Linked DNA regions of Homo sapiens: regions 2, 3 and 4 are each reported to be linked to region 1. Evidence: microRNA targets listed by miRTarBase, many of them from high-throughput screens and not tested one by one. Region 1 holds a microRNA gene; each other region holds the end of a gene's coding sequence.

Region 1 (5,388 bases):
GGCGACGGCACGGTGAGCTCCCCGCATGGGCCAGCCGAGCACCAGGGCTGGGCCTGAAGCCGGGGTCCCTGTGGGCCTGATTTGCCTCTGTTCTTCCTCCCCCAGGTGGGCTGGATCCTCTCCACCCTGGACCAGCTACGCCTGAAGCCGCCACCCCCTGTTGCCATCCTGCCCCTGGGTACTGGCAACGACTTGGCCCGAACCCTCAACTGGGGTGGGGTAAGCACCCATAGGAGGGGGGTGCAGCTGGGGCCTCTCCAGCCACAGAGGGCTCAGTCCCTGCCTGCTCCCCCAGGGCTACACAGATGAGCCTGTGTCCAAGATCCTCTCCCACGTGGAGGAGGGGAACGTGGTACAGCTGGACCGCTGGGACCTCCACGCTGAGCCCAACCCCGAGGCAGGGCCTGAGGACCGAGATGAAGGCGCCACCGACCGGGTAAGTTGGCCAGGGTTGGTGGGGGGCAGGGCAGGTGACTGGGGACTGGATCCCACTTTTCCACTTGCTGGTTCTGGGACCTCGGGCGTGTCTCTTCATTTCTCCAACTTCCACTTCTTCCTTGTACGATGGGAATAATAGTACTTGCCTCACAAGATGCTGTTTTTTCTGTGTTTTTTTTTTGTTTTTTTTTTTTTTTTTTTGAGACTGAGTCTCGCTCTGTTACCCAGGCTGGAGTGCAGTGGCGCAATCCCAGCTCACTGCAACCTCCGCCTCCCAGGTTCAAGCGATTCTCCTGCCTCAGCCTCCTGAGTAGCTGGGATTATAGGCAGGTGCCACCACACCTGGCTAATTTTTGTTTTTCTGTTTTCTTTTTTTTTTCTTGTTTTTTTTTTTGTTTTTGTTTTTTGTTTTTTGTGACAGAGTCTCACTGTCACCCAGGCTGGAGTACAGTGGCACAGTCTTGGCTCACTGCAACCTCTGCCTCCCGGGCTCAAGCTATTCTCCTCCGTCAGCCTCCTGAGTAGCTGGGACTACAGGCACCCGCCACCACACCCGGCTAATTTTTGTATTTTTAGTAGAGATGGGGTCTCACCATGTTGGTCAGCCTGGTTTTGAACTCCTGACCTCAGGTGATCCATCTGCCTCGGCCTCCCAAAGCACTGGGATTACAGGCATGAGCCACCACGCCTGGTCAGAAGATGCTGCTTTATTCCATAGACATGCACTGAGCGCCTGCTACCTGCCAGGCACTTCTCTAAGCAGTGAGCAAAACCAAGCCTCGCTGTTGTGCTCCACATGGCATGTCAGGAAGAAGTGTTAGGGGAGCTGACAGGGAAGAGATGCTGCAGGCACGCAGGGAAATCCCCCAGGAGCCACCAGGCAGAGCAGGGCTGTGCCTGACAGCGGGTGAGCTGGGCTGAGCCCTAGCGGACGCTGCTGACCAGGAAAAGCCTGTGAACAGATGGGCTGAGCTGGCTCGGCCACACGAGGCCCCTGGAGCGGGGACATTTGTGAGGCCCAGCCCTCATTTTGGTCCCTTGACCTTTTTCCAGTTGCCCCTGGATGTCTTCAACAACTACTTCAGCCTGGGCTTTGACGCCCACGTCACCCTGGAGTTCCACGAGTCTCGAGGTTGGCAGCCTCCCACTGAGGCCAGGGCAGGGTGGGCACAGGAGTGTCCCCGGGAGGGTCAGACCCTGCTCCCGCCAGTGAAGGCATCCATCCCAGCCCTCCCCCAACCCCACCTGGGCAGGCTGGGGTGACTCACTGGCCCCCACTGCTTGTCTCCACCCAGAGGCCAACCCAGAGAAATTCAACAGCCGCTTTCGGAATAAGATGTTCTACGCCGGGGTGAGTGGGGTCTGCACCCCCGCCTGTGCCCACCTCTTCTACCACCCGTGCCCGTGCCCACCTGTGTCCACCAGGCCCCAGGAGCCCTGCCGGGTGCTGGTGAGGAAAGATCTCTGTCAGCAGATGGTGACGCCCTCTGTCTCCCACAGACAGCTTTCTCTGACTTCCTGATGGGCAGCTCCAAGGACCTGGCCAAGCACATCCGAGTGGTGGTGAGCGGGGCCAGGCTGCCGTGGGTGGGTGGGCCGGAAGGGAGGGAGGCGGAGGCCACCTGGCACATGCACCTCAACACCCTCCCCGCCCGCCTCCAGTGTGATGGAATGGACTTGACTCCCAAGATCCAGGACCTGAAACCCCAGTGTGTTGTTTTCCTGAACATCCCCAGGTGAGGAGGGGGCTACCGGAGCTGGGGGGAGCCCTGCTGTCCTTGTCCTGCAGAGACTGTGTTTTGAGGCCCATGTCATCGCCCGCCTTTGCAGGTACTGTGCGGGCACCATGCCCTGGGGCCACCCTGGGGAGCACCACGACTTTGAGCCCCAGCGGCATGACGACGGCTACCTCGAGGTCATTGGCTTCACCATGACGTCGTTGGTGAGTGGGCCCTGGGCCCATGGTGCCTGGGAGCACAGCCCAAAGGTGGAAGGGGTCACCCATACTCACCTCCATGGGCCACGGCGGCCTAGTTCACCCTCACCTCCCTTCTTTGTCTCATTCCTCTGGCTTGAGAGCGGCACCTACCCCCTCTCCTCACTATGCCTCGGGATACCTTCACTCCCCACTCTGACTGGAGCGTCACCCTCATTGCCTCTGTCCCTTCCCTTTCCTACCTGGGGTCTCAGCCTCCCCTCTGCCCTCTGGCCAGGGGTCACTCTCACCTTTGTTCTCTGGCTAGAGTTTCTGCTTCGGAAGGAGCAGAGTCTGGGACCCCCCTGCCCCCAGCCCTGGTGCCATCTGACCCAAGCTTCCTGTGCCCACAGGCCGCGCTGCAGGTGGGCGGACACGGCGAGCGGCTGACGCAGTGTCGCGAGGTGGTGCTCACCACATCCAAGGCCATCCCGGTGCAGGTGGATGGCGAGCCCTGCAAGCTTGCAGCCTCACGCATCCGCATCGCCCTGCGCAACCAGGCCACCATGGTGCAGAAGGCCAAGCGGCGGAGCGCCGCCCCCCTGCACAGCGAGTACGTCCCACCCTGCCACGTGCCCTGGGTGCCAAGGCCAGACCCTGCCCTCTCTGGGCCTTGATTTCCCCATCTGTAAAAGGGGCTGACTGTCCCTCTGCCCCAGGGGTGTTGGGAGTGGAGCGGGACCTTCTCTCGGCAAGTGGTTTGGTGCCAGGCCGAGGGTGGCACCAAGGCAGGGCCCTTGCTGAGCCCCCGCTTGCCGGCCCTGCCCGACAGCCAGCAGCCGGTGCCAGAGCAGTTGCGCATCCAGGTGAGTCGCGTCAGCATGCACGACTATGAGGCCCTGCACTACGACAAGGAGCAGCTCAAGGAGGCCTGTGAGTGCGGTGGGGCGGCCTGGCAGGGTGGCCAGGAGGGGCTGAAGCAGCCGGGGCCCCCTTGGGCAGGGCTGTGGGGTGCAGCCAGCTGCTGACAGGTGCTCTGTTCTCCAGCTGTGCCGCTGGGCACTGTGGTGGTCCCAGGAGACAGTGACCTAGAGCTCTGCCGTGCCCACATTGAGAGACTCCAGCAGGTAAGGGGTGGGGGCTTCCCCAGGTGCCCACCGAGAGGGTGGTGGGAAGTGAGGCCAGGCCTCTTCCTCCCGCAGCCAGCTCGCCCTGCGGAGCCTCCTCTGTGCTGGTTCCCCCTACTCCAAGTTCCCTTCCCTCCCTGGCCCCCACTCTATCCCAGCCTGGCCTTTGCTTCTCTCAACAGGAGCCCGATGGTGCTGGAGCCAAGTCCCCGACATGCCAGAAACTGTCCCCCAAGTGGTGCTTCCTGGACGGTGAGTCTACTCCCAGGGTGCCAAGCTGTTTCGTGTTCCCTCCCTAGGGGATCCCAGGTAGGGGCAGCAGAGGACCTGGGCCTGGACATGGCACTCCCTGATCCTCAGCTGCCCTCTCTCCCACAGCCACCACTGCCAGCCGCTTCTACAGGATCGACCGAGCCCAGGTGAGCGATTGCAGGCCTGCTCCAGCCACAGCTGCTTCCGGGCCCCAGGGTCGCCTCTCCTGGGACGCCTTCCCTGTTAGCTCCCCCGATGGGCTCACCTCTGTCCTCATGCCTCTGAGAGCTTTTACTATTGCCTGTGTGCATGGACAGCGTGCGGCCCTGCCCTCCACACTGGAGAGTATAGGGCGGTGCCAGCCAGAAAGGCAGTGGGGTACCTACCAAAGGCTTGCTGGGTGGGTAGGAGGGCCTGGAAGCCCAGAGCCATCCAGGGAGACACAGAAGCAAAGGCATTCTGGTCAGGCGCCAGCTCACCTGGTAAAGTCTGGGCAGTCGGAGGAGGTGTCAGGAATGGGAAGGAGTGGGAGAGGGACAGGCAGGGCCCCTTGCCTGGCCACCTCCTTTCAGTGTTTGTGCTCATGGCAGAGGCTTCTCCAGGTCTACCAGCCTTGCTGCCCCTCGGCCCCCACCGTCAGGTGCCCTGACCTCCCGCCCTGACCTCCCCCCACAGGAGCACCTCAACTATGTGACTGAGATCGCACAGGATGAGATTTATATCCTGGACCCTGAGCTGCTGGGGGCATCGGCCCGGCCTGACCTCCCAACCCCCACTTCCCCTCTCCCCACCTCACCCTGCTCACCCACGCCCCGGTGAGTCCTGGTGTCCCGTCCCTCCAGCCCCTGGCTTTCAGCCCCACCTGTAAGCCGATGACTTCTGAATCCCTGCTTCTAGCCCCTCCACCAGTTAACTAAATGGTGTCAACCTGAACCTGGCCAAAGCCCACCTGACGGCCTTCAGCCCTGTGGTTCTGTGGGGAAGCGGCCTCACGTCCACCCTGGTTCCCTCCCTGACTTCTCCCTCCTCTGGACCTCATCCTTCAGCCAGTCCTGGCAGCCCCCGGACCCACCACCTGAGCACTCCTCCCCACCCCTACTGCCACCAGCCCTTCCCGGCTGCCACGCCCTGGCCCCCAGCTCTTATATCCCTGTGGCCATTCGTGCCCTCGAACCCCCATCTCCATACCACGGTCAACTAAAAATGCAGAGCATACCAGGCCACTCCCCAACCTAGAAGCTTCTTTCTCAGCAGCCCTTTGGACGTGGATTCTCCCCAGGCCCCCCGTCATTGCACTGGGCTCCCAGCCCCCTCCCTGAGTTCACCTCCATGGTCCTGCCCCACTCTCTTCTCTTGGTTCTTTGAGGCATCAGGTGTTTGCCACCACTGGACTTCTGTCATCGCTGCCTCCAACTCTTCCCCCATCTTTCCGGAGCTCCCCCACCCCCATCCCCTTCGAATCTCAGCTTGGCTGTTTCCTCCTTGGAGAGATCACTCCCAGGACCCCCTCTGCAGGGGTGCCACATCACCTGTTCTGAATTCTTAAGAGCACCCCTGCTCTCAGAACTCCTTATTTATTTGACTTGTTTGTATCCCTGAACTAGAATGTAAGCTCCATGAGGGCAAGGCCTTCCTCTGTCTCGTTTCCCTGCTGTA
Region 2 (5,388 bases), not on the chromosome of region 1:
TTCCTTCCCACAGACACCAAGAAAAGCTCCATGTAAATTATCTCACGTCCCTGCACCTGCAAGACAAAAAGTCGGCGGCAGCAGAAGCCCCTACGGATGATCAGCCTACAGATCTGAGCCTTCCCAAGAACCCGCACAAACCTACCGGCAAGGTCCTGGGCCTGGCTCATTCCACCACAGGGCCCCAGGAGAGCAAAGGCATCTCCCAGTTCCAGGTCTTAGGCAGCCAGAGTCGAGACTGTCACCCCAAAGCCTGTCGGGTATCACCCATGACCATGTCAGGCCCTAAAAAATACCCTGAATCGCTTTCAAGATCAGGAAAACCTCACCATGTGAGACTGGAGAATTTCAGGAAGATGGAAGGCATGGTCCACCCAATCCTGCACCGGAAAATGAGCCCGCAGAACATTGGGGCGGCGCGGCCGATCAAGCGCAGCCTGGAGGATTTGGACCTTGTGATTGCAGGGAAAAAGGCCCGGGCAGTGTCTCCCTTAGACCCATCCAAGGAGGTCTCTGGGAAGGAGAAGGCCTCTGAGCAGGAGAGTGAAGGCAGCAAAGCAGCGCACGGTGGGCATTCCGGGGGCGGATCAGAAGGCCACAAGCTTCCCCTCTCCTCCCCTATCTTCCCAGGTCTGTATTCCGGGAGCCTGTGTAACTCGGGCCTCAACTCCAGGCTCCCGGCTGGGTATTCTCATTCTCTGCAGTACTTGAAAAACCAGACTGTGCTTTCTCCACTCATGCAGCCCCTGGCTTTCCACTCGCTTGTGATGCAAAGAGGAATTTTTACATCACCGACAAATTCTCAGCAGCTGTACAGACACTTGGCTGCGGCTACACCTGTAGGAAGTTCATATGGGGACCTTTTGCATAACAGCATTTACCCTTTAGCTGCTATAAATCCTCAAGCTGCCTTTCCATCTTCCCAGCTGTCATCCGTGCACCCCAGTACAAAACTGTAGGCTCAGCTCTGCCCAGCAGTCCAAAGCGGCATGGCCAACAGAGCTTCACTCCTTACCCAGGAGTGCTGGCTTATAGAGTTAGAAGTCAGTATTTCTTCTAATCTGAGGCTATGATCAGTCCCAGCTGTAGGGGCCCAGAGGGGAGGTGAACATGCCTGATTTTTGTGGGACAACTCTAGCCCACAAACTGACTGGCTGGTGAGTCTTGACTCCCTTCCAACACAGATGCCCAGGCACCTCCAGATCATTCACTTCGCACGTGGGCCTTGTGAAGGGATTTGTGAATATCCAGGAAGAACTTAGAGGACCCCATCTGAGTTCGGATGGTCAGGAAACAATCTGGGCAAAAAAGAGGCAGGCATTTCAAAGGAAGGGGCAAGGAAGACTGGCAAACAGATGGCAAGGGATGCCCCTCTTTTTCATAAAACTCTCCAAGGTTCAATCAATGCAATGTATAGTGAAACTTCAATAGATCTTTCATTTTGACACTATTAAACAATCCAGAGAAGTAAACACTGTTAAATTGACTGTATATATTTGCTTCTTAAAACTACCTGTATCACTGTTTGCTCACCTAATTTATATACAGGTAGTTCCATTTTCTCCCAGTTCCTTCTCGTCTTTTTTTTTTTTTTTTTTTTTTTTTTTATTAAATGGTATTGCTTTTGTTTGCAGGTCTTTTTGTTTTTGTTTTGTTTTTGAGGCTGACTGACTGTCCTAGTTGTTGTGTGTTTGTAATTTTTCCACATCTTATTTTGAGCAGCTTTGGGTGGTAAAGTTATTGTTTACAAATTGAAGCAACTGATTCTAGTGGAACAAATGAAAAAGAAACAGTCAAGCACACAATAGTGCAAAGAACGTTCCTTTGTAGATCCGCAACTTAAGGATTTTGTTCCTCATAAATGGCATAGTTGAAAGAGCTTATACACTGCTTACCCAGCCAAATGCTTTGCTTTGAAGTATTGGGTTCTGTGAAAATATTGAGCATTGTACTTACCTTATCTAGGCTGTGAAACTGTCCTACATACCAGAGAATCATAAAAACAAAAACCTCACTGGCAGCAAGCTGCCGAATAACAACAGAGTCTAGAGGACATATTTGTGGGCTGCACAGATATTTTAGGAATTTCAGAAATTAGAACAGGAGCCAAAATGATTTACATTGGCGTTGGCACTGATTCCTTTAAATGGTCTGGGAAAGGGGGTTGGGAAGAGGATGGAGCTCAACTGGCCAGAAGAGGAGCAGCTGCAGTCCTGATAGCTTCTCTAGCCTCGGTCTTTTGAGTGATAAGTAGTCATGTTGTTTTCATCCAGTTGGTTTCTTGTCATTCCCAAGAAGAATCTCCCAGGCCACATCTTTGGGGATAACTGACATACTGGATTAGCCTTTTCAAAAGAAAAGTCATCCTATTTGGTTTTATGGGGTGTGAGTTTTGTGTGTACACACACAGAAACATGTAAGGTGGTTTGGGTCATGTTTTTAACCACCTGGCAATACAGTCCACTTTCTGGTTTCTTTTATTGTGGGAAGTAAATGGTCAAGCTGCTCAGGCAGTGAAAAGATGTGGAGAATGTCCGTTGTCATTCTTGCCACTGTATTCCATTTGCTACCGAGATATAACATTAAGGTGGACACATTTTCTAACTGTATTAATTAAAAGTCAATGGATACAGAGAGTGGATTTTCTCCCCAAGTCCCATCCCTGCTGAAGACCGCTTGGATGAACTCCCCAACCCACTGTGCCCCTCCCGCAACACTACCAGTAGACTTTAGAACCATAGTTAACTAAGTCTTTTACCTCTGAGATACTTAATTCTGGGAAAATTGGTGACAATTTTCAACTTCTAAATAGGTAACTCGACTGCAAAATAATCAAAACTGATAACAATGAAACTGCGGCTCTTAAACAAAGCCATGCATGCCGTGCATTTGTATTGAAATGTCTCCATGATATGAAGCCAAATATTCAATGTAACATACTTAATATCCAAAGGTGGAAACAAAAGAATGTAGAGATCCAGTGTTAAGAGTTCCATTTGCTTCAATTAATTATTTACCTTCCTGTGGAATAATATATATATATATATTTAATAGAACCATAGATAGACTAGTAGAATTTAGATTATAAATGTGTGAGTGCAGATTATCCTGCTATTGCACAAGCTAGAGGGGGGAAAAATCTCAATTCCAGCTGGCAAGATGCTAGCCAGGACACATATAAGAAAGTTGCACTAGATTGAATGGTCACAGAATCGGAGGACATGGAAGAAAAAGGAAACTTCGGTGGTTCTGCAGCAGACATGGGCTAGGTCATATGTGGTTTCTATGAGTTCGTGTCTCAAAAAAAAAAGGAGGGGGGGCATCTGTCCCCGGTGGAGCTCACCTATTTGGAATATGGGGCATTTGTTTTTTCCACTGCAATGATTTCAGTCTGGTTTCATCATGTTGGAATTCGATCACACCATTTTCAAACAATGTTAACATAGTCCAGCTTTTGTTTTTCTCATCTCTTCTGAGAGGAGACTCACTGTTTCTGTCTGAGGAAGCTCATACCCTCGGCAAAACATCAGGACAAATAAAGAGAAATGGGGGTACGCATTCCCAACAGAAGCAGTGTGTTATTTGTTTTAAAACTCTGAACAGAGATCTTGGAAATCTTTCAAAAAGACCATTGAATTCTTCATTGGCTGAGAACGACGTTTTAAAATGTCTTAAATAAGGCTTTGTTTGCATTGTTTGAGTTCAAGGGGCCTTATTATTGAATGGAATTGCACAAGCCTTTCTTTGTGCAATCAAACCATTGTTATTGGTAGTTCTGTAAAGGAAACTGTGGAATCGAATTGGCAGTGGAGTCATAAATCTATTTACTGAGTGTGGCTTCCAAGAAATGTTGCAATTCAAAATGCACTAAGTCTGTGATTTATTGGAGATTTGGAGATTCTAAATAATATTTTTAAAAAACTTCCATGCAACTTCTGGTTTAATGTTTGGCAACTCCACATGATAAAAAAATAAAAACAGCCCAACCGAGTTTCGGAATTAAGTATTCTTCTAGTAAGTGATTCAAACTTGTAATATTTGCCACAGGACTGACTTATTTATTTACTAGCTAGAAGCTCTTAAGTTCACTTGTTTATCAGGGCATATACAGAAGGGTTTGTTAAAACTCGATGTTAACTTTACAACTTTCTGACCTGGTGCATGAATTCTCAAGTACTGTATTTCACTGTGTTGGTGTGTCTGATGGAAATTTCGAGGTGGTCCCACAAAAATATTTTATGTAGTGTGCCTTCAAAGAGAACCATTTATTTCTCTTCACTTATCGTCCCACAAAGTCACATTTGGTGGTGGTCAGCCAAGTCGCATCTGGTCTAGTTTTACTCTTGTCCCAATTTTAAAGAGAAATGGGAATGAGTTTGCCCTGGTGAGACCCATACCATTGCAATGATTATCTTGAGCACTTAAAGTCCAGTGTTGGCTGTTAGTGTATTTGATATTCTGCCTGTCTCCTCATGGTTGAAATATGTCTGAAGAATAGCAGCATAATCTCTTGGCTGTTTATACTTTTTTAAACTTTCCTGTGTTGTAAATATTGTATACTTTTGGTGATTCCAGCTATGTAACCTCTATGCTCTGTAAGGTGATTATTTGTATATAGCAACATGGCCCAGTGATATTATATAGTTTCCCAATGGAGAGGTTATTGAGTAACCTTTGCATTAGTTTAAACACTACCAGAAGAATGCTGAGCCAACTATAAACACTCAATTTTGTATGTTTTCCAAATTGTACTTATTACTGCTTTTGATACTGTATTACGTGCCAATAGTTTCCCAATCACATAGCAGGCAAGAGATATTTTGTACTTTTTGATCCACTGTAATATTTAATAAAAAATGTTACTATCTGTTTCCTTTTGGGTGTGAGTAATCTGTCACTCTTCCTGAGGAGCCTGTGGCCTCCCCAGAAGACTTTCCACCCCATCTGTCCAAATTGAATGATAACAGTAATGATGGCAATGTCTGTAATTCACTAAGGACCTAGTGGGTGCCCATTTGGCAAATACCTCTTATCTTCACAACCTTATGTAAATATGGTTATACCTATTTTACTTATGAGAAAACTAAAGCTTAGAGAGGTAAATCAACTGGTCCAAGATCACCCAACAGATGGCAGAGTCAGGATTTGAAGCCAGGGCTCTCATCTATGTACTTCCTTTGTATACCATCCTCCTCCGCTGGTAGGATAATCAGAAAAGTTATTTATTTATTTATTTGTTTGTTTGTTTGTTTATTTATTTTGAGACAGAGTCTCACTCGGTCGCCCAGGCTGAGTGCAGTGGTGCGACCTCAACTCACTGCAACCTCCGCCTCCCAGGTTCAAGCGATTCTCCTGCCTCAGCCTCCTGAGTAGCTGGGATTACAGGTG
Region 3 (5,388 bases), not on the chromosome of region 1:
CCCTCGCCCGCGATCACAGCCCATCTCAGCCCGGGCCTCCGCAGTGCCCGGCCCACGCCTCCTGCCCCTTCCCCGGACCCTGCCCGGGAGGTGTGGGGACCCGCAGGGCACCCAAAGCGGTAAGGGAGGAACCCGGCCCGCACACAGCCCCAGAAGCCCAGCGACCCCTAAGCCACGTACCGTCCCCAGGCAGCTCCTCGACGGCTAGAGCTCTCGGGGGCCGCGAGCTGTCCCGGTCCAAGGCAGCAGTCTGATTTCGGGGAAATTAAAAGGGCAGAAAGGAAGCGGCAGCAGAAAAACCCCCGCGCTCCCGCCAGACCAGCCCCTTAAAGGAACACGCGCACCTTTCCCTCCCAAGGGCTGGGCTCGAAGGGAGGAGCTGCTGCAGGCTTGAGCGGTCTCCAGACTCGCTGGGAACCACCGCAAAGAGGGTGTGCAAGAGTTGAGGCCCTCACGTCTTGGGAAAGGAGAGTAGGGGTGGAATAGGAGAGTTTGGGGAGGGGGGATCCCCTTAGAAAGCCTGGTATACCAAAAACAGTGGGAGTAAGCAGGGGAAGCCCCTGTCCAGCATTCTGCTAGGGGCTAAGGCTGCTCCCCACCTTTGATTGTGGAAGGGGTGAGACTTCTGTATTACTTTCTTTTCCAAATAGAAAGCAAGGGGGTGAGGCCAGGTGCAGTGAGTGGCTCATGCTTGTAACCCCAGCACTTTGGGAGGTGGAGGCCGGTGGATCACCTGAGGTCAGGAGTTCAAGACCAGCCTGGGCAACATGGTGAAACCCTGTCCCTACTAAAAATACAAAATTAGCTGGGCGTGGTGGAGCATGCCTGTAATCCCAGCTACTTGGGAGGCTGAGGCAGGAGAATTGCTTGAACCCAGGAGGCGGAGGTTGCAGTGAGCTGAGATCATGCCATTGTGCTCCAGCCTGGGCAACAAGAGCAAAACTCCGTCTCAAAAAAAAAAAAAAAAAAAAAGCAAGGGGTTGCTGATGTCCTCATGCCCCTGAGTTTGGCCATCATGAAACACTGGCCAGATTCCCAACTCACTGTCAGGCACATAGCAGGTGCTATCCCCAGCACATGGGGCTTGAATGAGTGGCCCTGGCTGGGAGGGGAGACACAGGGTGGGATACCTCTGCAGCCTGCAGGGGCAATCAGGCTTCTGAGTGGTCCTCCAACAGGGGTGGGCCTCCCTTCGGAATCCTGCTAATCAGCACAGCCATCCAGGCAGCCGCTCAGGATGCCTCTGTTTGGACAGGGTGTTTTCTTTCCTGTCCAGACCAATGGGGGCCCTGGCCTGGACAGCCCGATGTTTCCTCAGCAGAAAAGACTAAGGAGGTCCTTCAGCTTTGGCTGGGGGAAGGGTCGAAGGGTCACAGGGTCACAGAGCTCAGAGCCTCTTCCTAAACACAGCTCAAGTTGGCCCATGAGTGTGTGTGTGTGTGTGCATGTGTGTGTGTTACACACAGCCAGGGGCACATTGGAGCACAAAGAACTGTGATCAACAGGTAAACTACACCTAAAAGGAACGCCAGGCTTGATGGGCAAAGGGGAGCCAAGGTAGGTCCCTCTGCAGGTTCCCGACAGGGGAGAGGATGGACAGTAGGGAGAGCACATTTTGCTACAGTTAAGTCGAGTTGAACATGCCAGCCAGGGGTAGGGGTAGCCAGCAGGTGGAATCTGAACGCTCACCCTCTGCCTTGCAGTGGGGCAGAAAAAAGTCAATGTGTAGGGGTGATGGTAAAAGCTGGGCAAATGGAAGACACTGCTGAGGGAGAGAAGCCAAGGAAGGAAGGAGGGGGTCAGGAGTGAGGGGACTCCACTCCAGGGTCCCAGGAGGGGGACTTTTAGAAGGCTGTGGCCAACCCATCCCAGAGCAGAGATGCTTCTCCCACTGTCTGCTTATCCCCAGGGTATGCTGGAACAGGGGTTCAGGGCAGGAAACTCCCCCGGGAGGGAGACCTGAGGCTTGGAAGCACGCAGAAAGGCTTGGCTCTAAACCCAATCCACACCGCTCCGCAGAAGAGAGCTCTGAAACGGGAGGCAGTAGGCCAAGGGACACCCAGGGGAAGGGAGTCCCCCATCCTCAGTTCCTACGAAGACCACGGCCTGGGCCTTTTATTCAGACCCTGCTAGGCCCAGGAGCCCAGCAACCGCAGGTCTCAGAAAGGAACCACTTCCAGACACATTTCCCTGATGTGGTTCCAGCAAAGCCACGCCCTCCCTTTGGCAGCCCTGTGGCCCCACCTCCTGCTGCTCAGAGGCGGCCCCACCTCCTGCTGCTCAGAGGCGGCCCCACCTCCTGCTGCTCAGATGCACCCCCTGCCTGCAGAACACAGCCGGCTCCCAAAGTTTGGAAAAATTCACCTTGACAAAGAGGGTGGTTTTTCCTACACCCCTTCCCAAGCTAGCCAAGCCTCTGCCTGCAAGTCACCCTTCCAGATCACCAAGACACTGGCCCGCAAGGCCCACCCCCACTTCTTGATGACCCCCACACAGGGGAGGGCAGAGAGGGTATCCCTGGAGCACACACGCCAGTGGCCTACCAGGAACCAGTGTGTTCAGGCAGGAGGCCTCATGCCCACTTGGCAGAGCCCCGGCCCCCTCCTCCAGTCCCACGCTGCACCCACCCCAGGAACTCCCGCAGTTCGGAAGGCATCCAGGTTCACTGAGTTTCTTATAGTTTCTCCAGCCCACCACTCCAGTTGCAGAGAGAATGGAAACTGCTGAAGGGGAAAACCAGCTGCCCCAGCCAGTCTTCCTGGCAGGAAGGGAGCAAAAGCATTCAGGAGACAGTGTCTGCCAGCACTCGCTGGGCCCCTGACCAGGCAGCAGTTGTAGGGCTCAGGGCCAGACGGCATGGAGGTAGAAAGCAGAGGGAAGAGGGGAAGTCAGGTTTTGAGGACCTGGAAGTCCTGACTTCCTTCAGGCCGCCCTGGACCAAAGTCTCCAGCCTCCTGCTATGAAGCTATGTGTAGTCAGGCAGGTGACATAAAGAAAGATGGGGCTGGGCACGGTGGCTCACGCCTGTAATCCCAGCACTTTGGGAGGCCGAGGCAGGTGGATCACAAGGTCAAGAGATTGAGACAATCCTGGCCAACACGGTGAAACCCTGTCTCTACTAAAAATATAAAACTTAGCTGGGCATGGTGGTGTGCACCTATAGTCCCAGCTACTTGGGAGGCTGAGGTAGGAGAAATGCTTGAACCCAGGAGGCAGAGATTGCAATGAGCCGAGATCACACCACTGCACTCCAGCCTGGCGACAGAGCAAGACTCCATCTCAAAAAAAAAAAAAAAAAAGCAAGCAAGCAAGCTGGGGCTCAGGGAGGACCACAGGTGGGGGATGGGGAAACCAGCGCAATTTAAATCCCATTCCCATGAAACAATAACGAACCACACCAAGAGTTCCCGTGAAGAAGATAAATATATTTTGGAAGCTGCCTGTGTCCTCTGGGGTGAAAAGCCAGCATAGAGGGCCCCAAACGCCCACCCTGCCAACCCATGCCCTCCTCTGACCTCGCTCCCTTTCTCCCCATAGACCCGCCCCACCCCCTTCTGTGTCGCTGGGCTTCAGGACAAGGGGCAAGAGAGGCAACCAGGGAGACAAGGGGAAGTGTCTTGGGGACAGGGGGCCACAGCAGTTGTGGCCACATGGTACCCCAGGGCCGACGCAGGGCCGACGGGCAAGAGGCTGTTATCTCCAGCCTGGCGCTTCCGGGCCTTTCTTGAGGCCACCATGGGAATGTGATGTGTGAGAGAGGGGCTAGGAGAGACAGAGACACACGCACCTGGGATCGGCGGTCCGGACAGGGGCAGGGAAACCACACGCCCTACTTTGCCCTTTCCTGTCCATCCCAGACCTACTCAGATCCCTCAGTGCCTAAGAAAACAGGACAGTGAGGACTGGGGGTTAGGGGACGGGGCTTAGGGGCTGGGGCAGGGCCCGTGAGAGGTGGAGGGTGGGAAAGAGGGAGGGAGGGGTGACTGTGTGGTGGTGCTGCCTCTGAACACCCTCCCCTTCCCCAGTCCCCAGCCCTATGGTGATTTAAAGGGGCTGAGAAGCCAAGAGGCAGCGGGCCCATGGAAAGCAGGAAGACCTGGGGGTGGCAGGTGGCCACTAACAGCCCAGCAGCTCCAGGCGCAGGGCGATGCGGTTGTGCCAGGCTACAGGCAGGATGCGCACATAGCGAGCCAGGATGGGCGTCTCAAACAAGTTCTTCTTGTGGGAGTGGTTGTCCCAGTTGCCAGGGAAGATCTAGAGGCAGAGCGGGTGTCAGGAGGACCCCGAGCCAGCCCCCCTCCCCTCAGAGCCCCAGGCCAGACTCCCAGGGAAGTAATGAAGGAATGGCAAAGGGTGGGCAGCTGGACAGACACCCACCTTACTGCTGCCAGTCCTGGGGTCCTGGTACTCAGTCCAGTTCGCACTGTCATTACTGTAGGCAACCTTGTAGGATGCCACAAACTGGACAGAGCCAAAGTTACGGGCCCCCTGGGTGATGATGCCTGTCACCTCCTTCGAGGAGCCCAGGTCCACCTACAGAAGAAACCAACCACATTTTCTCTGCTTGGACCATCTCCAGTAAGGTGAAAAGAGGCAGACACACTGAGGCATGAATTCTAGTTTTGAAAAAAACTACTTGGGTGAGCCTCAGTTTCTTTGGCTATAAAATGGGCATAAGGCCGGACATGGTGTCTCATGCCTATAATCCCAACACTTTGGGAGAGACTTGAGGCAGGTGGATCACCTGAGGTCAGGAGTTCGAGACCAGCCTGACCAACATGGTGAAACCCCGTCTCTACTAAAAATACAAAAAATTAGCTGGGCATGATGGTGGCTGCCTGTAATCCCAGCTACTAGGGAGGCTGAGTCAGAAGAACCGCTTGAACCTGGGAGGCGGAGGTTGCGGTGAGCCGAGATGGCGCCACTGCACTCCAGCCTGGGTGACAGAGCAAGGCTCTGTCTCAGAAAAAAAAAAAAAAAAAGCGGTGAGGGGGCATAAATAATACCACCTACTTTGCCACACATGGTGTTCGGTACCTCACTGCTATAAAGCTCATAGGGTCTGGGCCCTGGCCAACTCCACGCCAACCACCCCTGCCTGAGACCTGCACTGCACTGTGATGGGAAGAAGGACAGGAGAGGCCACAGCCTGGAGGGGCATGAACTGCTCTAGAGGCTCCCTGCGGCGCCGCCCACAGTCTGACACTGGTCCTGAGGGTGTCCACAGGCAGGCAGCTCCTCAGGGAACCCAGCTCCGCAGTGTGCTCCATGGGGCCCTGAGACAGACCTCCTGTCCCCGGTCCCTGACCTCCCTGGAGAACCTGCCAGCTGCACCTGGACACACAGTTCCCCAACATCCAGGTGTAAACCCAACTCACTGCCAGCCAG
Region 4 (5,388 bases), not on the chromosome of region 1:
GCCTCCCTTCCCCCAGGTACCATTTATTAGACTCCTACTATGTGCCAAGTAACAGGATAGGAGCTTTGCAGTCTTTCTAGAGCATGCCTACTAGACTTTGCCAACACCCATCACAAAGTCCTCTGCTCCTTGTTAAGCTGTTACCAGCTCTTATTCTGTGTGCAGCACTGAGCTGAGTGCTTTGCATATATTTCTCCTTTAATCCTCATCATCAACTTTTGTGAGGTGGGTACCACTATCACCTCCAGCTCAGAAGCTTAGAGAGGTTAAGTGACTTGCCCCAAACCACTCAGGTCATTATGTAGCAACGCCAGGATTTCACTTGAATCTGCCTGCTTCCCAAGGCTGGGCATGCTGTGAAGCATTCCTCCTTCTGCCTCCTTCTTCACCAGCTCCCAACCTGCAGAGCCCCTATGCCCAGGTGCCCTGCATCCTGCTCTGCCCACAGCTGGACAAGAAGATGGTCCGTAGGCAGCCGAGCAACCACTATGCACTAGACCAGTGCACACCCCCTGGCCTGGATCCTGACATCCGCAGCCCCTTCTTCCAGTCAGGATCTCAAGGAAACAGGTGGGTGCCCAGAGAAAGGGTCCCAGCCCAGGCCCTTCCAGATTCTTCCTTAAGAGGCCCCTGGCCTAATGCCTGGGAATCCATCTTTCTAAGAGATCATACCTGAGAGGCTGCTTGCTCCAGGGAGGAGAAAGGGTAAAAGGCGAAGAAGACAAACCTTTGTTGAGGGCCTGTGTACCCAGCAGATTGTTCCACTGAAGCCAGAGTGCTTCTGCTTTCCTGTGTCCAGGACTCAGTGGCACCTAACTGAGTACTCTGAGTTCCCTATGGTTCCATATTAGGACTAGCAGACTGTGCACCTGGGCAGAGGGGAACGTCTCCTGCAGCAGTCCCCCTCCAGGCCGCTGGGGAAGGGAGCTCTGGACTTGGAATCAGGCCCCTAAGCACAACTGCTGGTTCCACCATTTCTGAGGGGAGGCCTCCTCTCTCTCCTCACTTGGGCACGCACAGATGGCTCATATACTGGCAGATAGGGAAAGGGCCACATGTCTCCCACCCTTCTGCCCTACTCCTCTCCCCAGGGAACACAACTCTGACAGCAGAAAGTGGCTCAGCTCTGTGCCAGCTCGAACCCACTGACCCTCTGGAGGCCTGACTCTAGGCAGCTGCTCAAGGCCTGTAGACAGATGGGCCACCAGGCAGGAGCTGCTGCTGGGATTTGCTTTTGTGGCCTGGTGAGCTAATAAACACCAATAACTTCAGCCTCTGTGCCTCTTGCCAAGAAAGGCCCTCAAGTTGTCACCCAGCCACCACTGGGCTCTCAGAGTGCAGGGTTCCACCTCAAAGCCCTGCGCGGGGTTGGGATTTCTGCTACAGGTGCCCCTGCGTGCAGTCTTGACCTTCTGTGCCTTCTCAAAGCACAGGGCTAGGCCTCTCCTCAGGTGAGCACATCCCCCTCTGGACTGGGAGCCCCACAAAAGCAGCCATTCTCTCTCTCCACTGGCTCTAAGACAGGCCCTGTGGAAGAGCAGGAGGTGGCCTCTGCATGCTCCCCCGACAGAGCCCCAGGACCCAGGGCTCTCATTCTCTGGGAGCCCCAAGAGGGGTGGGTCCTTTCCCCTCAACCCACATACCACCCGGCCTCGTGTTTTACCAAAGACAGTCTTTCCCTGGGACTGGGCAGAGGGAAATCCCCCAGGGTTAAATAAGCGGCCACAGCAAGAGGTAGAGGGCAGGGACTGAAATGAGGACAAAGATCTGACAAGTTTAAAACATGTATTTAAAATACAATTTATAAAATGCTTAATCTGCCGACTCAGGAGCCCGCGGTGCAGGGTGGGGTGGGAGTGGGCAGCTGCCCGCTACACCAGCAGAGTAAGACTGCAGGGGTGCAGCCCTCCCTCCCATGCCCTTCTGTTCAGACACCCAAGGGGCCCATGTGCACCCCTGGGATCACACGACCAGAAAACAGGACCCCAGAGGTTTCTTGAGTCTCTGCTTACCAGGGAGGCTGGGTACAGCCCTGCCAGCCCATCCCTGAGCAGGGCACCCCCAGATGGGGCAGAGCAGGGTATGGCTGGGCAGGGCAGGGCTGGGCGGGGCAGATGGGCTCTGGAAGGGGCTGATGGTAGCAGATAGGGTGTTGCCTCCTGCCTGCAGGTGGGGAGCACCCTGATTGAGTGGGCTGAGAAAGGTTGGTCACCAGGCCTGGACCCCCCAGCTCCTTTGGTTATAGGCTGACATCAGAGTAGTGGCTCATGGGAAGCGGTTAGCTGGAAGGTCTGAGGCCTGGCCCATGGGGTCAGGGAGGAGCTGGGGGAAGGGGACAGTACCGTGAAGGCAGATAAAGGGGCAGCAGCCTCAGGTTTCTGCCCCCCATCCCCCTGGGGTTTTCCAAGCCAAAGCCTGCAACTTACTTTAAAAAAGAAAAGGAAAAAAAGCACTTAGGAAAGTTACAGACAACTACCCCCAAAAAATACCCTCCCACACACAAAATCCAAACCGTTTCCTCATCTCCCTCCCGCCTCCCCCGACACAATACAGTTTCCTGTTTTCTTTCTTTTTAAAAACGTTGCCTGCTACCTCTCCATTTGGGAAGCCCAGGGCATGACTGCTGGTGGGTGGTGACAGGCACACAGCGGGCAAAGCCCATCTTTGGCCAGAGGGAGGTGGGAGGACCAGTCCCTGCCACATCCTCAATCCACAGACACCCACCAGCCAGCCTTTACTTTGGCCTCCCACTAGAGGGTAGTGGGGCAAGAACAGGTGGTCCCAATGGCTGGGCAATCAGCACTTCTGGCGTTCCCACCTGGACTACCTCTATACCCTTCTCCAATTAAAAGGAAAGTCTCACTTTGGGCGGGAAACCACTATTACATAAGGGATGGACACTACACATTTAGAATGTGGACACTTGGTTAGGGCAGTGGAACTATAAAGATAGCAGCCAGTTTTCTTCCTTGCCTTCTCCTGAAGGTAATCCTCCCTCTTACTGACTGAAGCTCTGGTTCCAGCTCTGCTCATGGGCAATGCCTGGCTTTACAGTTATAAGGCTGTGCTATGGACTAGCTGCTGACTCAGCTGGCAGCTGGCCCTTCCTCCGGAGGAGAGGACGTGTTGGGGCATGGCTTACTGGGCCTGGCCTACCATTCCCACAGGGAACCAACGAGGGAGTGAGCCTGTGAGACTCAGCTTGCCACCTTGGCCACCACGTGCTGCCCTCATCACAAAAACCACACCAACCACTCCGAAACGTATCTGCTGGTCAGGAGCAGGGAGGCTGTCTGGCTGGCTGAGGGATAAGGCGCAGTGCAACGGAAGGGATCAGGAAGCCTGAGAGGAGCCAGGTACACACAGCTGCTCTGGGCAGCTGCCCTCTTAGTCTCTTCCACCTCAAGGAGCCAAAGCAAACCCCAGGCTCCAGGGACAGAGGATAAACTGCCTTCATTCCAGGCCCTCGCTCTGGAAAAAGGGGTGACGGGTAGCCTAGGCCTCTGAGGAACCAGTCTGTCATCAATCTTTGCAAAGCAAAGCTGTTCTTTTTCCAACTTTATTCAGAATGTTCTGCCTTCAAGGTACTGATTGCACACAGGAAATGTACCAGGTATAGTTACTGAGCTGGGGCCACCAATGGAGATGGAGCACTGCAGACCCCTAAGAGTTCAAGCCATGCTGGAGTGGGAAGACCTATCCACCTTCTGAACATACGAGGCAGAAGGCTCAGAGTCCTGGAGGCAGACTCTCTCCTGGTTTTCCTTGTGCTGATGGCAAAATACTAAACAAGTCTTCTCTCCGTCACTTCTAAGCCCAGGGATGCAATCTCACTCCCTGGCACTCTGCTTTCTTCTAGAAGTAGTAAGCCTGGCTGGTAGGGAACCACCCTGAGGGGTATGGGAAGGGGAAGTCGGTTCACTTTCCCTATCTCCCAAAATACTAGAGGTGGGGTTGGCACCCTCCCCAGGCTCTCCGAGCCTACAGAGCTAGCCCAGTCTCCAGGCAAGGCCCAGATGCCCTGGGACTTAGCTCGGGGAGGGAGGTATAGGCATGGGGTGCTCGTCTGTCCTGGCGGCTGCAGAGCCCTGCCCCTTTTCTGGGCGGCAGTAGGAATACAGAAGCTAAGCTCACCAAAATCCTATTGGTTAATGTTTCTAGTGAATTTCCCAGAAACATTTTTAAGTAGACTACCAAACTACCCTTTCTTAATTAAAAATTCATTAAACCACTAAAACCCCTCCCATGCACTTTTTCTTGCAAATCAGATATTTGTATAAACAAACAAAAATAGGAAGAAAAAAAAAAGAAAGGATATTTTCAAATGGAACTTACTTTTTAAGTGATGGAGACATGCACTTGGGGGTGGGTGGGTGTGAGTTTTCATTTGTGTTTTGAAATCCCAAATTAATGAGCATGATAAACTGTTATTGCTGGCACTGGCTTTACCCCAAGTGGCCAAGTGGCACTGTCTGACTCTCTGAGTCCTTGCTGGGTCCCCCCAACCTTCCCCTAACCCCCACCCTTTCCCTTTCCATTGACTTGGGACAGCCCTTGTCGATGTGCCAATCACAGTGGGAAGGGGGAGAAGGGGGGAGGTCACAGTGCATGGGGTTCAAGGTCACAGTGGGCGGAGCAAGGGGGATCACAGTGCAAGTAAGTCAGGTCGTTCCCTCTGCTCAAGTCCAGCTGTCTGCCACGGCAGTGCAACCCGTGGCGGACGACCCAGGAGGCGGTGACGGCAGCAACGGCGGCATCTTTTCTTGCCTGCATTTATCTGCGCTGTTTGAAGCCTTGAGACCCATCAGGACCCAAAGGCTGTCTGATCACATTATTGGGCTGCCTGCTGTCTTCGGGTTGGGAGATCCTGGTTGGCCTGAAAGGAAGAAAAGCAGAGGAAGGCCTGAAGAAGGATATAATAGATGTCCCCCATCATTTCTTTATTTTTTATTTATTTTTGAGACGGAGTCTCATTCTGTCACCTAGATTGGAGTGCAGTGGCACGATCTCCGCTCACTGCAACCCCCACCTCCTGAGTTCAAGTGATCCTCCTACCTCAGCCTACCGAGTAGCTGGGACTACAGGCATATGCTACCACACCCAGCTAATTTTTGTAATTTTAGTAGAGATGGGGTTTCACCATGTCGGCCAGGCTGGTCTTGAACTCCTGACCTCAAGTGATCCGTCCACCTCGGCCTCTCAAAGTACTGGGATTACTGCACCTGGCCTAGATGTCCCCCATCTTAAAATCAACTGTCCATATAGCTGGGCCCACGTCACTCTGGCTCCGCAAGCCTGCTTCTTTGGGAAGCTGACTCAGGGCACCTCCAAGTTGAGAGGCCCCTGTGAGCAGGCAGGGTCGGTGGTGCACATTCACCTCTAGCAGCT

What was found. The annotated mature microRNA hsa-miR-4688 reads UAGGGGCAGCAGAGGACCUGGG and lies in region 1 at 3,791-3,812, shown strand. An mRNA with a match to its seed (bases 2 to 7 or 8) in the 3' UTR can be bound and repressed. Matches are read on the target gene's strand: a 7mer-m8 pairs with bases 2 to 8, a 7mer-A1 pairs with bases 2 to 7 and ends in A, and an 8mer does both.
Region 2: miRTarBase lists ARID5B as a target of hsa-miR-4688. Seed matches in the 3' UTR shown: 7mer-m8 at 1,367-1,373 and 7mer-m8 at 2,701-2,707.
Region 3: the mRNA of MFGE8 is a reported target of hsa-miR-4688. Seed matches in the 3' UTR shown: 7mer-A1 at 3,925-3,931, 7mer-m8 at 3,808-3,814 and 7mer-m8 at 3,578-3,584.
Region 4: miRTarBase lists SZRD1 as a target of hsa-miR-4688. Seed matches in the 3' UTR shown: 7mer-m8 at 2,358-2,364.

What each region holds. Positions count from the first base shown.
Region 1 is chr11:46,372,666-46,378,053 of GRCh38, forward strand. MIR4688 (microRNA 4688) reads left to right here and starts at 3,737; the gene lies at 3,737-3,819. DGKZ (diacylglycerol kinase zeta) reads left to right here. Exons shown (of 31, transcript NM_001199267.2): 12 at 1-12; 13 at 106-219; 14 at 296-436; 15 at 1,492-1,570; 16 at 1,734-1,789; 17 at 1,939-2,001; 18 at 2,101-2,174; 19 at 2,269-2,380; 20 at 2,767-2,966; 21 at 3,186-3,286; 22 at 3,401-3,480; 23 at 3,663-3,732; 24 at 3,859-3,899; 25 at 4,408-4,547.
Region 2 is chr10:62,092,072-62,097,459 of GRCh38, forward strand. It overlaps ARID5B (AT-rich interaction domain 5B), which reads left to right. Exons shown (of 10, transcript NM_032199.3): 10 at 1-4,873. The coding sequence ends at 959. Among named protein-coding and RNA genes, the nearest start is that of LINC02621, 160 kb to the right of the region's middle.
Region 3 is chr15:88,895,279-88,900,666 of GRCh38, forward strand. It overlaps MFGE8 (milk fat globule EGF and factor V/VIII domain containing), which reads right to left. Exons shown (of 8, transcript NM_005928.4): 7 at 4,378-4,533; 8 at 3,405-4,254. The coding sequence ends at 4,117. It overlaps HAPLN3 (hyaluronan and proteoglycan link protein 3), which reads right to left and starts at 266. Exons shown (of 5, transcript NM_178232.4): 1 at 181-266. RefSeq lists enhancers at 1-103, 2,100-2,394, 2,331-2,380.
Region 4 is chr1:16,394,526-16,399,913 of GRCh38, reverse strand. It overlaps SZRD1 (SUZ RNA binding domain containing 1), which reads right to left. Exons shown (of 4, transcript NM_001114600.3): 4 at 1,769-4,876. The coding sequence ends at 4,774. It overlaps SPATA21 (spermatogenesis associated 21), which reads left to right. Exons shown (of 13, transcript NM_198546.1): 12 at 393-570; 13 at 1,092-1,271. The coding sequence ends at 1,149. Among named protein-coding and RNA genes, the nearest start is that of SZRD1, 30 kb to the right of the region's middle.